Linked DNA regions of Homo sapiens: region 1 is linked to region 2. A link means that fine-mapping ties the variant in region 2 to the expression of a gene that starts in the linked region. Tissue or cell type: sun-exposed skin. Region 2 holds a variant in brackets; the other region holds the start of a gene. All regions are shown on one strand. Distances are between the middles of the regions.

Region 1 (8,083 bases), 120 kb before region 2:
CTTCTCCTAAGGCAGATGTGCCACAGAGACCGATGGGTCCATGGCTGAGCTGCTTGAGCAGGGAACAAACTATGTGTTCCCTGAAAGTCCCCACCAGGCCAGGAATTCTCATCCTGAGGCATCTACAGAGGCCTGGCAGCCCCTGCCCACCTGGTTCCCAGGCTTACTGCCTTCTGCCCCATAGAAATGGGCCCCTTAGGGCTGTTTGGTGAGTGTGCTGTCCCCTTTGAAGGGTGGGTAATGGCTTGGTGTCTTCCAGATTCAACGTCCATCAGAACAGTTCATGCCCAGTCACTGGCTCTGCGCCAAGAACCTGCCTGGCAGGAAGACTGCTTGTGGGGAGACGGCAGAGGCAGGATACAAGGCCCTTCCTTGGAATTCTCCCCAGTGTCCCTGCCTCCTCTTCTCAGCTGCCCATGAGCTCCTGGAAGGCCATGAGCCTCATTTCCCTCCCGACCTAGCAAAATGCAGTTAGCCCTCAATATTCACATACATAATTGGATTTCTTGTTGAAGGACAGTCTCATGCCTCCAAGCTCAAAGGGCCCACACAGATCATCACGTTTGATGCACCTATTTTACAGATGGGCAGAGTGAGGCTCTGAGAGGGGATGTCCTCAATCCTTTTGGGTTCTCATAGCATTCTCACGGGTCTTTTGGGCTGACCTGGGTGAAGCAGGCAGCATTCCCTGGCACTAAGCCTTGCCTATTCACATTTGTGAGTGAAATTTGGAAAGGCCTTGGTGCTTAGCCACTGACCTGCTGCCTGCCTGACCTTTCAGGAAATGCAGTCCCTTGCCTGGAAATGGCTTTGTGGACAGTGAGTCGTGTGGTATCACCCACACAATACAGTGGGGAGAACTGGACAGTTTCCCCAGTTTCTCACTGGGCCCCACCGCCTCAATCCTCCTTCAAAACCTGCCTGAAATCCAACTCTGTCCTCTTGGTCTTTTTGTGACTCTTTCACCGGAGATGTCCTTCTCCTCTGTGGCTGCACATTTATCCAACACACCCTTTAAGATCCAAATGCCACCTCCTCCTGGGGGCCTTCCTCGGTTTCTTTCCATCCCTTAATCAGCTTCACAATTCAATTGATCTGCATCTCTTTGGTGGCATTTATCACATTCTCCTTATATTATCTTACCTTTATGCAGTTGCAGGGGGTTCTCCATGACATAGTGATGTCTGATGTCTCCCATCCAGACTCTCTTCCCTACCCCAAGTTGCTGTGCGTGTCTCCTGTCCACATTACAAATGCGTGCATGACCAGAAGGCAGGACCATATGGAAATTTTTGTCCCTGCCCCCACAGTGGCAGACCCTTTTCCCCCAGAGTCTTGTACAGGGGTTTGCATACTGTAGGAGTTAAAACAAATAACTTATTTAAATTACCAACGGTTTGAGCATCTATTGTATCCCAGGCTCCATGTGTCAGGCTGGGTGTGGGGACACAGAGATGGATCTGACAATGACAGCGCCATGTGATGTGTGCTGCAATCCCGGTGTAGGGCAGAGCAGCTCACCAGAGTCAGGTGAGCTCTGGCCTGCACCTAGAAGAATAACCAGGTTGTGAACAGGCAGAAAAGGGGCAGAGGGAGAACCTGGGAGGAAACAGTATGGAGAAAGCATCGAAGTAGTCAAGCTTACCTGAGCCTGGGTGCAGGTATCAGAGAGACTGGAGCTCAGGAGGCCGGATCTGAAGCTGGGGAGGCTGCTGAGGATCTGCACAGAACCCCTTAAAGCCTAAGATTTGGATCCTTATGACAAGATGCAGAAGTTTGGAGTTAGGTTACCTGGGTTCAAATCCCACCTCTACCACCTACCCGTTTATGTCAGCTTTCCCATCTGTAAATGGAGAGAAAAAAGCAGGCCTCCCTTAAACCCCAGCACTGTGTGGGTCAGGGTCTGGACTAGGGTGTGGCACATGCAGAGATGCAGCATACCAGGAGATGCCAAGAAAACTCAGCAACGGAGGTAAATTGCCCAAAGCAGTGCCCCAAACCCCTAAGTAATCAAAATAATATTTTAATTTTTTACTTTTAAAATATTTTTAAAAGTATCAAAATTAATGCAAAACCCCACAATGAACAAAATATCTAAAATGTAAATAAAGACAGGGTCTGCATGGTACCAAGTATGCAACTAAAAAAACATCAGTTATGATTGAAGAGGGAGTTCTCAACCTTAGGGGGCCGTGGACTTCTGAAAACCGGAGGAAAGCCCACGGCCCCTCTCCCCTGAAGAATGCACAAACATGCTCAATTTGTGCACAGTTTGGGGGTGTTCCTGCACTCCCTGGGGTTCGTGCACATGGAAGTTAAGAACTCTGGTTCAACATTGGGGGTGCGGGGGTGGCGGGGGTGGTTCCACGCGCCGGCCAGCAGCCTGCCAGTTCCCCAGTCCCGCGACTGGCCTCCCTCCTGGCAGCCATGGGTGCTCTGCCCTCTGCAGGAAGCAGCGCACAGCTATGCAGCTCCCCCAACCCCCCTACCTCCCCTCTCTCGGCTTGGGACTTTTCCTAAAGTTTGTTGAAACCAGACACCTTGCTCGACCGAGCCCGCGTGCAGCCAGGGTTTAAAAGGCCGCCTTCAGCGCCCCCTCCCCGCCCCCAGCGGAGACTTCAAAAGGCCCGGCGGGCGCCGCCGCCCCAGCACCTATGAGCCGCCCCCAGCTCTCGGAGCCCGCGCCGGAGCCCGTGGACGCAGAGCTGCCGAAGTTCGAGCGCAGGCGGACCGGGTCGGCGGCGCAGTCCCGCGCGCCCATGCCCCTCCCGGTGCCGCTGCGCTCCGCGCGCCCGCGCCCCGTTTAGGGAAGGGGACCTCGCCCCCCGCCCCCGCGCCCACGGCTGCGGGGACCCATGAATACAAATGCCGTTAGGCGCCGGAGGAAGGACCGACCGGCCAGCCTCGCACGTAGGGACCCAGTAAGTGCTTGGGGGCTCCTGGAGCGGTGCGAAGTGTTATATGCCTGTGTGTGCGCGCGCCTAAAGGTGTGCGCGTATGGGGAGGTGGGTACACGCGTGAGGAGTGAATGCGTGTGTGCACATGTGCGGTGGGCACTCTCGGAGAACTGTGTGCAAGTGAGGGTGTGCGCGCGTGTGTCCACCCGGGGTGTGTACATGTGTGGGGGCGATATGGCCAGGATAGCGTGCATTTGTGCCTGTGTAAGCATCCGTGTGCATGCTTCTGCGAGTGTAGAGTATCAGCGTGCGCCTGAGCCCAGATATCTGAGGATGCGTTTCGTGTGAACCTAGGAAGGGTGCGTGGCTGTCCCAGAATGGGACCGTGTGTGAGCGTGTGTCTGAGTTTGGGGAAAGGGTGGATACGTGTGGGAGTGTGTGTGTGCACCGGTGAATAAGTGTAACTTTGCTCGTGAACGAGTGGCAAGAGGTGGTAGAGGCGGAGGGAGCTGTGGTCCCAGGGCTGGACTGGAGTTTTGGGTGTGAGAATTTGCCCGGGGGCCAAGGTGTGCAGCTCTTAGCTCCCGGATGGGATCCGAGGGAGTTTTTGTCGATTCTGGGGAGGTGCGTGGTTAGTGGTGGTGGTGGGGTGCGGTTAGATTCCAATTGCTGACAGAAGGGAGAGAGAGGGTGGCAAACCCTTAACAAGCCCACCCTATATGTTCTCCAGGGCGCTCCGAGTCTGGGAGCGCAAACTTTTGGTGGGCGGTGGGGATCACGATACTGGTTGTCGTGGGCGTCTGGACACCAAGTTCTGGTCCTAGCTCCGTCCCTGAAACTGTGGGTTTCTTCCAGGAGTAGAATTTGGCCCTTCTCCCCTACCCCAACCCCCCATTGGAGGACCCCCAGCCTCACCAGTCAGAAGTTCCTAATCTCAGAACGGTGATCAAATCACCGTGAAGCCCTGGGCAGCCCCTTCCTCTCTGTGAATCTGTTTCCCCATCTATACAAGGAGGAGGGGGGCGGGTGTCCCATCGGGGCTGTAGTGGGCCAGCTGAGGCTGTACCCTTGGCTCCGGCCGGCAGGGGGCAGCAGGGGGCAGCAGAGGGCGGCCGGGAGCGGGGAGGAGGGAAGGTGGAGAGCCACCGCGGGCCGAGACTTTAAATCGCCTTCATTTCCCCCAAATCCTTCCTTTTCCTCTCCTCCCCCAGGCCGGCGGGGAGGCAGCTTCCACCGCCCTCCGCGCGCCCTCACCCGGCCTTGCTCTGCCTCCGGGGACCGCCAGCAGCCCGCCTCCAAAAGTTTGATCATCTCTCTCTCTCTTTTTCTTGCTTCTTCTTCCTTTTTGGTGGAAGCAGAAAAGGACCGAGGCAGGGGCGAGCGCGGCGCCCGGACTCCTGGGACCATGGGCCTGGCGCGGGCGCCCGCGGGGCCCCAGCCGCGCTGCCTGCCTGCTCGGGCGCCCCTGGGCGCGGGGCTGCGCTGGGGGCGCGGGGGCCGCGCGCTCTAAGCCGGCCTGGCGCGGCGGGGCGGGGGGCTGGCGGCCCCATGGGGCGCGCCCACACTTGCCCCCCGGGCTCGGGAGCATGAAGTAGGGGCCTGCCATGGGAGCGGGATCGGCGCGGGGGGCCCGAGGCACAGCGGCGGCGGCGGCGGCGCGCGGGGGGTGAGTACGAACTCGGGGACGCCCCCTCCCTAGCTTCCTGCTGCTCCAATCTCGGGGAGGGCCGGGGTTCCCCGCCATGCGGTCGCTTCCAGCGGAACGTCAGCTTCCTGCCCCTTCCTGCGCCCCCGCGAGGCGGGACGCCAAGGGTTAATAGGGGCTGCGCCCCCGGCCGGGCGAGAGTTGGCGAACGCTGCCCGCCCTGCCGCGCCTGGCCCGGCTGCCCGATCCCGTTGGGGCGGGGGCAGAGCCAGCCCGGGGGTCGGGGGTGGGGGTGGGTGGTGGCGCCTGGAGCGGCCGGCGGGGTGCGGAGGGGGGCTTTTTGGATGCTTGGGGGAGGAGGGGGGTCTCCGTTTGGGGCCGTCTCGGTGTGTTCCGGTGTCTCAGTGTCTGCAGGTCCCAAGCCTGTACGTCTCCGTTTCTATCTGTTCTTGTGAAATTGTCCGCAAGTTTCTAGGTCACCAGGTCTCGGGTTCTGCTCCTGTCTCCGTGTCTGTGTGGCTCTGCACGTCCCCGCGTTTCTGGAAATCTCCGCGTGTTTGTGTTAGTCGGCCTGGGTCTGTGTGTCTGTGTTTCCTGCTTCTCGGTTCCTGTCCCTTTCACGTGTGTAAGAGAGAAAAAGTGAGAGCCAGCATGTCAGAGCAGAAAGGGCCCTGGGCGATCACTGTGCGGAACCCCTCAGTGTACAGATCGGGAGACAGGGCCGGAGAGGGGCAGGGACTCTCCCAGGAGCGGCTGCGCGGAGCTGGGGCCCAGAGGCTGGGATTCCCAGCGTGTGGAGTAGGAGTTGTAAGAGAGAGTGAGCCTGTGCTGGAGCCGGCGCAGCGTGTGGGTGTGTGTGGGAGCCAGCAGCATGCAAGCAGCCCGTTGGGGCCTGTGGACGGCGCTCCTCTCTTTCCATCCTGCCCCCAGGACACCAGGACACTCCCCAGAGGCTGTTAGGGCTGTAGCTGGGCCCTGCCCCCTTTGAGCTGGAGTCCGCGGGATGACACCCCCTCCTTTCTTCCCCATGTCTTGGAAAAAGCTGGCTGTTTGCGATTCCCCCGCCCCGCACCCCCTCACCACAACACACACACACACACACACACACACACATACGCGCGCGCGGCACCAGTGAGCACACTGCTGACTCATTTTCTCCAGAAGACCCTGCGCCAGGGTAGATGCCAGCAGTTGGGCAGAAAAGTGGTGCCAGGCGAGCACCCCATGGTGGGGCTCCAGCTGTGGGCAAGTGGGCAGTCAACACTGCTCGGAGGCCCAGTCTCTGCCTTCTCCTGCCTCCCTGCCTCCCTTGACATCACGTTGTCCTGCATCATGTGCGCTCTGGCGCCAGCATACCTCTGCTCTCCAGCATGCCTCTGCTCTCCAGCATGCCTCTGCTCCTGGACCCTTCTGGCCGGACCAAACTCCATGTCATGTCTATGGACACATCCCTGGCCTCTGCCTCCTTCTGTTTCCTCCCTGTACTCAGAACATTCTCCCTCTCCTGTGCCTCCACCAGCGCTGCGGACCCTCAGCAGCCAGCAGCCTCCTGGTGGTCTCTGTCCCTTTCTGAGCACACTCCCCTGTTCTTTGTTGGCATTTTCTCTCCTCCATCTCTGTCCAGGGACCCTCTTGATACCCACATGCCTGGCTTGGCTACGCAGAGTAACATATCCACTGGTGGTAGGGGACAGCAGTGAGACACTCACAGAATCATGTTGGTGGGAGGCAGGCGGCACCACAGGAGGGCCATGAGGCTTGCCATCAGGCAGGCTCGAGTTTGAATCCTAACTCTGCTGTGCCAGCTTGGGTGAGCCACTCTGCTGCTTGTTTTTCTCTTCCACAAAACCGGCACCTTATTCCTAGCTGGCTGGGTTTTGTGAAGATGAACAGGACCATGCTTGTAAAGGGCTTAGAACAGGGCCTGGCATGTAATAAGTGCTCAGTAAACGGCAGCTGGTATTTGTATTATTCCCTTCATGTTGAATGGGTGTGTGAGTCAATGGGAAAGTTCTGGGCTGCATCCTCTCCAGACGATGACCTGTCTGTGTTCCCATGGAGGACGTGGAAGCTGTGAAGAAAGCCCAGGCATAGCCGTCTGGGCACAGGGGGTCTGGCCAGTCCATGGAGGCAGGTGGGACAGGTCCACCCCACTTGATGAGCTGTAGTTCCAGCTAGCTCCCTTTTCAGCTTTTACCCCATGCGTGAACAGCCAAGCCTAGTGTCCACAGGGCCACTTTCCCTGTGTGTTTCTGTGGCCTGGGTCTCAGCTCAGAGCCCTCAGTGACTGTTGAAGCTGGTGTGGGTTTCTAAGATCCTGTGTGTTTCCAGGTAATAAGGATGGAAGAAAACTATCCAAGCAGTCTGCCGGTTCTGGCAGTGTGGTTACCCAGGAGTAGCCCCATTTGGTGCACTGGCAGAGGGCCTTTTGCAAGGGCATAGAAACACCTGGGTTTCCTCTTTGGAGGGCTGTGTGGCCAGACGATGTTTCCATGTGATGTTTCCTCGCGGCTCCCGTTTCGGCTGCCTCCTGGCCTCCCTGGCCTCTGTGCTCTGGTCTTCCTGACATTCTGGAGCCCTGGGTTTGCAGAGACAAGGCCCACAAGACAAGTGGTGAAAACAGAAGTCTGGAAGAACAAAGCCCTGAGCCAGCACAGGCACTAACCATGATTAGCAGTAGCCTAAACAGGATTGGAACGGGAGCAAAAGAATCGGCAGGGCCTCCCTCTGAGAGCCAACTTTCCAGGCCTGGAGCTGACTTAGATGGCTCGTTGGCTCCCTGGGTTGCATCTCTGTTCCTGCTGGTGAAGGCTGGGGCTCGGGTCTCTGGCAAGTAGGAAGTCCCTGCAAGTCTCCAATTTCTGCTCCATGGAGACAAGTCAAATGAAAAGGACTATCTGTTAAGTCATAGACTTGAAGCACTGTGTGACTTCGGGCAAGTAACTTGCCCTCTCTGGGCCTCAGTTACGCATCTTTTCAAAGAAGGGAGAGAGAGGACTAGAATCTGACCCCTAGATGATCTTAAATGGCCTTCTTCCACTCTGACATGCTCTATACTTGGGAAGTTTATGGGTCAAGTGCACACAGAATCCATTTCCAAGAGGGTCAGCTGCATTTGTCAGGGAGAATGAATGGAGGTTGAATACTTCTGTAATAGGCCTTCAGGGCTGAAGTCCTCAAGTTGGAAGCCATGGTGTTAGGAAGCTTAATTGAAGAGAAGATTCTGATTCCATGTCTCCTGTGGACTTCTTCTTCCTGATTTTCAGAGATTACAAGGATTTGCCCTCTAATTCTCTGCAGAGTAGTCATTTTGGTATAGCTGTAGCCAGGGAAACTGACCGAGAAGGACATGTGTCGTTTTTGTACCTTCTCTTCCCCACCTCGCCTTTCTTTATCAGTTTGGGAAACTTCCTAGGAAGTTTGGTATGTGACATAATCCAATGAAGGACTCAAGGAGTGAGGGCAGGTGCCAGACAAGGGCCAGGAAGAGAGGGGGCTGGAAGGAGATGGAACAGAAATAAATGGGATCGCAGGAACACAG
Region 2 (8,101 bases):
AGCCTGGGCAACAGAATGAGATCCGTCTAAAAAAAAAAAAAAAAAGCCCATGCCAAGGGTTGCCTTTCCAAGGAAATAACCTCAGGTGCCCCAAAGGTCCGAAGCCCCAAGAAGACCTTGGTTACAGCCCTATCACTGTAAAGAGGATACGCTCAGGATCCTGCTTCAAAGTCCAGCTCCACCGCTAGCCAGTTGTGGGCCTCTGGGCCAGACCACTTGATTTAGCTCTGCCTCAGTTTCCTCTTCTGTAAAATGGGACTAAAAGCGGACCAGCCTTAGAAAGCTTTTGTGGGGATTAAGTCAGTTAATAGATGTTAAAGGACTCAGACTATGGTCCTGACATGGTTAGTGCTATATAAATGTTAGCTCCATCCACTCCCCAGAGAAAGTATTCTGCAGCCAATAAGAATGATCGCCATGCAGAGCCCAGAGCGATAGGAGGGCACGTTCACCATAGAGCAAAGCAGTAACTATAACAAACAAAGATGGAGACCAGCAGTCCAGTGGGATTGTGCCTTTAGAGCTTAGTTTACTGCTGTCCGATTCATTGCCTTGGGAGAGTTGCTTCACTGCCCTGAGCCTGGTACATACCATCCAAACTGTTACCTACCATTTATTATTATTATTATTATTCACTGTGTTTTTGTCATCGAGGATTGAAAATACAACTCAGAAAAATGGAAAGAGTGGTTCTGAGAAGGAGAATTGGGTGAATTTTCTTTCTTGATGAAAATTTCTTTCAGCTAGTTGCAGCAGCTCATACCTGTAATCCCAGCACTTTGGGAAGCTGAGGTGGGAGAATTGCTTGAGCCCAGCAGTTGGAGACCAGCCTGGTCAATGGTCTCCAACTGCTGGGCTCAAGCTCTCTTGTAGCAAGACCCCATTTCTACAAAAAAAGAAATTTTTTTTCAATTAGCTGGGCATGGTGGCATGTGCCTGTAGTCCCAGCTACTTGGGAGGCTGAGGCAGGAGGATTGCTTGAGCCCAGGAGGTCGAGGCTGCGGTGACCTATAATTGCGCCTCTGCACTCCAGCCTGGGAGAGAGTGAGACTCTGTCTAAAAAATAAAAAAAAAAAATCTGCTTCATAAGACTCTTGTTCTCCCAATGTGTCTAAGTTGGAGAGAAATTGCCCTTGTCTCCTGTGAACTCCATGGGGTGGGTGCAGTCAGGACCCCGGCTTATCTCTGAGTCACTCTGCCCTTCGCAGCCCAGGCCCAGGCAGGGACACATGGGAGCCTCTACGTCTGGGATGCATCCTTGTGCAAGCTTAGAGCTACACTGGGCTTGGCAGCCGAGTCACAGCACCCTGCCTTTTTGGCTGCAGAGGGAACTATCGAGAATCTAGGGACCAGTTGGCTGTGGATGCCTGAATGGAGCCCTGAGATTTGGGGCCTCTGATGCACTTGGCAACTAACTTATTCTCTCTCTCTCTCCCCTCTTCATGCCCTGCCACCCAGGGGGACAGGGGAGACCCAGGGCCTGATGGAGAACATGGCGAGAAAGGCCAGGAAGGGCTGATGGGTGAGGACGGGCCCCCCGGCCCCCCTGGCGTCACTGGTGTCCGGGTGAGTGTGCAGGCCCCTTGCAGCGCCTGGAGCTCTGGGGTACCCTGAACTCTCATGCCTGTGCAGGCGGCTGGGCGGGAGGGCTTTTGGTCGTGCCACTGAAGGATCTTCTGCTGTGGTCCTTTCTCCACCTGGCAGTTTGCCAGAGAACCAATCTGCTCAATGCTCCATGGCTCTGGAGAACAACCTCGGTTACTCATCCTCCTGGCTGCCCTGCCCTGTGCAAACCTGGTCCCTGCCGACCTCATCTCATCCATCCCCCATATCCAGACACACTAAACTTTTTTCAGTTTCTTGGACAAGCTGTGGCCCTTACCCCTGGGCCTTTGCATGTGCTCTGTCTAGGACACTCTCCCTTCTTCACTCCCCTGTCACCTGCTTAAGTTCTATTTGGCCTTCAGGTATCACCATAGACATCACCTGCTCCAAAAAGCCATTCCTGCCCCCAGGCTGGGCCATGAGCCCTCAGGGACATGCATAACCTTCAGTGTATGTCTTGGCTCCATGAAGACCAAGACCTTTTCTGGCCTTCATTTACGTCTTTAACAGTGCCTTGGCCAGGTGCGGTGGCTCACGCCTGTAATCCCAGCACTTTGGGCAGCCAAGGCGGGTGGATCACTTGAGGTCAGGAGTTGGAGACCAGCCTGGCCAACATGGTGAAACCCCGTCTCTACTAAAAATGTAAAATTAGTCAGGCATGGTGGCGCATGCCTATAGTCTCAGTTACTCAGGAGGCTGAGGCAGGAGAATCACTTGAACCTGGGAGGCGGGGGTTGCAATGAGCTGAGATTGCGCCACTGCACTCCAGCCTGGGCAACAGAACAAGACTTTGTCACAAAAAAACAAACAAACAACAACAACAACAAAACCAGTACCTGACACATAAGAGGTGACCAAAGTCTGTTTGTTGATTGAGAAGACGGAGGAACTCTGCTCTTCCACCCTAACAGAAATGTACTTAGTCAGTCCACAGACCCTCACGAGCATCTTCCCTGGGCCAGGTCCCCTGAGATTGAAGAGGTAAATCAGAAAGCATCCCTGACTTTGAGGGACATAGAAGCCAGTAGGGAAGGGAGCAGAATTCTCCTGTTTCAACATGTACAGACAAGTTGCCCAATGCTTTCTCGAAGGTTCCCTCTTTGATACCGATAGCAACCCCTGAGGATTGGGAAAATCGGAGAGGTAAAGGAAACTTCCCAGGCTCACACAGTGAGAAATGACAAAGCTGGAATTTGAACTTAGGCCTGCATGACTCTACGCATACTGCCCCTGTGCTCTGGCAGAGTTGGAATCCAGGGCTTGGCTGTGGGGCTGTGAGGATGAGCTGGAGGCAGGTGGAAGCTTGATTTTTGAGTGTCGCAAATACTGGACTGATGACTCGGAACTTGACTTGGTAGTGGGGGGCAGTGGTAGTCTTGTACAGTTGAGCAGGGTTTGTGTGACCCAGGAGTGCTGGGTCGGTTCAGTTGAACTCCTTGGGACCCGTGGATTAGGTGGCCTCGTAGACAAAATGCCCAAATGCACAGGCCTGCTGGCATCTACCTTGAGCCAACCAGGTGGTGAGAACTCATGCCTCTGCTGCCATCCCAGTCTCCCTGGGGTGTCATTTTCACTCTTCATCCCTCAAGCGGAGAGACTGACGTTGTTACCTAGGCAAAGCAGCCCAGTTTGATTCAGGCCTGCTCTTGACACTGTTTTTCCCCCCTGAAGTGTTTACATGACTAACCTAGGACAGATCCAAGTTAGCCTGCAACAAACTATGGTTGTGGGAAAATATTTGTTTCCTAAAAATAGCACTGAAGTGCCAATCCCCCTAAACAGCTGCAACAGAATGAACTCACCAAACTAGAGAAGAATACGAGGGCGCTGAGTCAGCCAGGAGGCTTCCCCCAGGCTTGACTCAGTGGCGGGCTTGACTCAGCGGCGGGGAAGTAGGCCAAGGGGAATTTAGCAGGAGGGTCCCGGGCCAGGATTCTGCATTAGGAACTTGGTCTGCGACCTTTCACCCGCCCCCTGCCCTCTCTGGTTTTGCCCTTGGAGGGTTTGGAAGGAATGTGTGCTAAGATTACTTTGAGCTCCAGCGTTCTAGGGACCCTTTTTTAGTGAGTGTTGAGTATCATGGCTGTGGAATGGGCAGGAACACATGGCAGAAATAGCCTTGGAACCAGAGTCCTGAGGTTGAACTTGAGTTTCTGGCTCTAGTAACCCATTCTCTGTGTGACTTTGGGCAAATCACTGCCCCTCTCTGAGCCTTGGTTTTCTTATCTATAAAGAATAAATAAAACTTAGGGTAGGAAAGCACTTTATAAAATGCACCAGAAATATAGAAGATTGTCTTTATAAATTTAGAGGAGAAAGTGACTAGAGGCTGGTGGTGGCTGGTGGTGATGGTGAGTGGATGGTGTGGGTGGGGGCAGCAGCAATGGTAGTGGTGGTAATGACGATAATAATGATGGTGATGGTGGTAGTACTGATGATGGTGTTGGTGGTGGTGATGATGATGAAGATGATGGGGGTGTTGATGGTGGTAGTGGTGGTAGTGGTGACTGTGATGAGGTGGTGATGGTGGTGCTGGTGCTGGTGGCGATGGTGATAGTGGAGTGGAGGTGAGGGTGATGATGGTGCTGGTGGCGATGGTGGTGGTGATAGTGATAGTGGTAATGATAATGATGATGATGGGGCACTGATGATGGTGGTGGTGATGGTGGTGGTGATAATGGTGGTGGTGGTACTAATGATAGTGGTAGTGGTGGTGATGATGGGTGGTAGTGATGGTAGTAGTGATGGCAGGGGAGTGATGATGGTGGTCATGGCAGTGGTGGGGGTGGGAGTGGTGATGATGATGATATGGTGGTATGGCGTAGGTAGTGGTGATGATGATGGTGATGATGATGATAGTAGTGGTGTGGTGGTGGTAGCTGTGTTAATGTCAATATTTTGCCATCACTCCCATTTCTCATATGCCGGGATTGGAAGGAGAGTCACTTGGGCCAGACGAAGTGTGTGCCAAGTGATAAGGCAGTGAGGGGCCTTACTTGAGTCTCTTTGGCATCAGGATAAATACCTCCCACTCTGTGGCCTGGAAACAGTTGAGTATTTAAAAACAGAATTTTATGAGCCATCGGGGCCTTTCCAGAAATGCATCTATATGGATGGGGCCCAGCAGAAATATTCATTCCGGACCCACAGCCTCACCCACTGTATGTATGCTCTCGGCTGGAGAGGGCACGTCCCAGCAAGTGGCACCCTGTCCCAGGGGAGACGCAGCCTCCCGTCTCCCTGC[C/T]CCTGTACCGGATGCTTCAGCACTGACTCATCTCGCCTTCTGCAAGGGATCAGTCAGCCATTGCCGCCACCTCAGTGCACTGGAAAATGCCACCAATCACTGTGACATGGCTTCCCCATTGCCTGACCAAGACCAGCCTGGAAGGAGAGGTGCCCCAGAAGTGGAGGAGCTGCTTGTCACTTCTGACCTGGCTGGGAGGCCCACAGAGGGCTTCCTCTCACTGAGCCTCAGTTCCTTTAGCTCCAAAACGGGATAAATAATCCCTTCCTCCAAACACTGGCGAGAATTGAACAAACATTTATGTGGAATGAGAACACAGCACATGGCCCGTGGTGAGGGTTGTAGGGATTGTTGGTGTTTTATTACCGGAGGAGCTGGAGACTTTGAGATTGCCTAGTGCAGTCCGATAGAAATGAAATACAAGCCATATACAAGCCACTCCTTTTAAATTTTCTAGTAGCCACCTTTAAAAACAGCAAAAAGAAACAGGTAACTTCAATTTTAAGGGCCAGTGCAGTGACTCATGCTGGTAGTCCCAGCACTTTAGGCAGCCAAGGTGGGAGGATTGTTTGAGCCTAAAAGTGCAAGACCAGCCTGGGCAACATAGTGAGAACTTGTTTCTATAACAATTAAATTAAATTAAATTAAAAAGTTAGCTGGGCGTGGTGGTGCATGCCTGTAGTCTTGGCTACTCGGGAGGCTGAGGTGGGAGGATCACTTGAGTCCCAGAGGTTGAGGCTTCAGTGAGCTGAGATTGAGCCACTGTGTTCCAGCCTGGGCAACAGAGAGAGACCTTGTCTCAAATTTAAAAAGGAATTAATTTTAATAATATAGTTTATTTAGCCCAATATATCCAAATATTATCATTTCAAAATATAATCAATATAAAAATCATTAATAAGATATTTAGCACTCTTTTTGTAGTAAGTCTTTGAAATCCAGTGTATAGTATATTTTCATAGCATACTCAATTCAGATGTGAATTTTCATTGGAAATACCTGATCCGTGTTTAGATTTTCATTGTATATAAAATTTCATTGGAAATACTTGATCTGTATTTAGATTTCATAAAATTTACAGTTGACAATGTAGGTTCATATACCCAAGTTACTCCAAACAAGTTTTGTAGCAACCTAATTGGGTGTGTCAACTTTTAATTTTTTTTTTTTTTTCTTTTGAGACACAGTCTCACTCTGTCGCCCAGGCTGGAGTGCGGTGGTGCTCACTGCAATCTCCACCTCCCAGGTTCAAGAAATTCTCATGCCTCGGCACTCCCAGGTAGCTGGATTACAGGCGTGCACTACCATACCTGGCTAATTTTTGTATTTTTAGTAGAGACAGCATTTTGCCATGTTGGCCAGGCTGGTCTTGAGCTCCTGGCCTCAAGTGATCCACCCACCTCAGCCTCCCAAAGTGCTGGGATTACAGGCATGAGCCACCGTGTCCAGCCTTAAATTTAATTTTAAATTAATTAAAGTTAAATAATATTAAGAATTCAGTTCCTCAGTCATAGTAGCCAGATTTCAAGTGTTCGGTAGCTGTATGTGGCTGGAGGCCACGGGGCTAGTCCCATACTAGAGGTGGGGAAACTAAGGTTCAGAGAAAGAGCAGGATTTGTCCAGGGGTACATGTAGACTCAGGCACTGGGTTGCAGGCAGTCTGTGCTGAGGTCCTTCCCGGGCCACTGTTCCTGCCTTTCTGAGGACCGCAGGGTGGTCTGACTGGTGCATCTCTTTGGGATAGCGTCATCTTTTCTGGCATCATAGTTGATGCCGCATTAGTCTTTAGAGCAGACATTTCTCCCTTGTGCTGAATCAAAGCCAGCCGCCCCATAATTTTCATGCGCTGGCCACCCTAGAGAACATGGCTGGCCCTGCCTCCAGAACAGCTGCAGAAATCTGCAGACAGGAACCAAGTCCTCTGGGTTGGTCCAGATGTTTCCTTGTTCCTCTAGGACCTCCTCTTCCTGTCCCTCTTCTATCACAATTAGTCAGTGCCTCTTCTTAAAGTACAATACCTATTCCCAAATGGGACATCACCTCCTTCATTCTACATCTGGTGCCTCTGTTAATGCAACCAGAGGGATTACATCAAAGCAGCTCCTTAGTGCTTACCAAGAGCATAGACATTCTTTCTAGATCCTTTGAGGCTTGCAGTCAAGAAGTCCTTTCCAGGCCAGAAACGCTGCCTGCCCCACTCCCTCCATCCTGACCTAGTATGGCCCAGGATTGATTCTCTCTCTTCTCTTTCTCTCTGTGTCTGTCTCTTACTGTCACATTCACACTTGCACACACTCACTCACCCTTGCTGTGCAGTTTCTCTGACAACTGTGGACACAAAGCTGGATTTGCCCTCCCAGGGCAGGGCAGGGCAGATCAGGCCGGAGGATCTCTTTGGGAAGCCCTGTGGGGCAGGGGCAGAGTGGCCTGTCAGAGGGAATGGCCTGGGGACTCCAAGGAAAGTGGGAGAAGGCAGCTGACCTTTCCAGCACAATTCCCTACTGTGAGGAGGCTCCTCCAGCCCAGTCCCTGAGAGAGGAGGGGCCCGTTCAAGGGACATGCCCACAGGAATTGCTCGCAAGTGACGCACAACATCTCAGAGATAGGGAAGAACCTATAAATCCTCTCCTGCCACCTCATGTCATCAGTGGGGACCATGAGCCAGGGGTGGTAAGAGCCCTGGGCATGGAGCCAGAACAGCTGGGATTGATTCAGGGCCTGCAAGGCGCAGCTGGGACCCTGGGCAAAAGTCACTGTATCTTTGGGAACTTGGCTGCCTCAACTGGAAGCGGGTCTCATTGGGGCCTAATGTTCAAGGTCGTTGGGAGGGTGGAACAGCACTTGGCGCTGGAGAGAGCTCAGTGCAGAGAGTTGCTCCCTGTAGGACACCCCTGGATGCCTAACAGTAACCATGACAACAGCAAAGCCAGCAATTGCAGAAGCCGCACCCGCCATCCACCCCTGCACCCAGGCCTCACTGTCAGCACGTTCTTACATCGCCAGGTCGAATCCCTAAGTTCTGTGACACTGTCCCCACTTCACAGCAGAGGATGCTGAGCCTGGGAAATTAGGTCAGGCTCAAGGTCATGTGGGTACTGGGTGGCAGAATCAGTTTCGAACCTGGCCATCTGCCTCCAGAGCCGACAGTCTGACCGCCTTGCGGATCCGCCTCAGTTTCCTCTCTTCTCTCATCTTTCTCTTGCTCTGTCCCTCCTCTCTCTTCAGGGTCCTGAAGGAAAATCAGGGAAGCAA

Evidence for each region. PIP is the estimated chance that this variant, and not a neighbour inherited with it, causes the effect.
Region 1: it holds the start of COL27A1, and the variant in region 2 is fine-mapped to the expression of COL27A1 in sun-exposed skin (GTEx, PIP above 0.99). The same link has a PIP of 0.9 or more in esophagus mucosa and unexposed skin.

What each region holds. Positions count from the first base shown.
Region 1 is chr9:114,151,450-114,159,532 of GRCh38, forward strand. COL27A1 (collagen type XXVII alpha 1 chain) reads left to right here and starts at 4,088. Exons shown (of 61, transcript NM_032888.4): 1 at 4,088-4,563. The coding sequence starts at 4,502. It overlaps LOC105376225 (a long non-coding RNA gene), which reads right to left and starts at 2,819. Exons shown (of 5, transcript XR_930256.3): 1 at 1,646-2,819; 2 at 1,391-1,548; 3 at 1,144-1,238. RefSeq lists an enhancer at 1,895-2,416 and silencers at 3,953-4,072, 4,960-5,254.
Region 2 is chr9:114,274,203-114,282,303 of GRCh38, forward strand. COL27A1 (collagen type XXVII alpha 1 chain) reads left to right here. Exons shown (of 61, transcript NM_032888.4): 37 at 1,459-1,566; 38 at 8,075-8,101. Among named protein-coding and RNA genes, the nearest start is that of ORM1, 45 kb to the right of the region's middle. RefSeq lists enhancers at 2,396-3,595, 7,087-7,899. The variant C/T (reference allele first, on the strand shown) is at 4,850.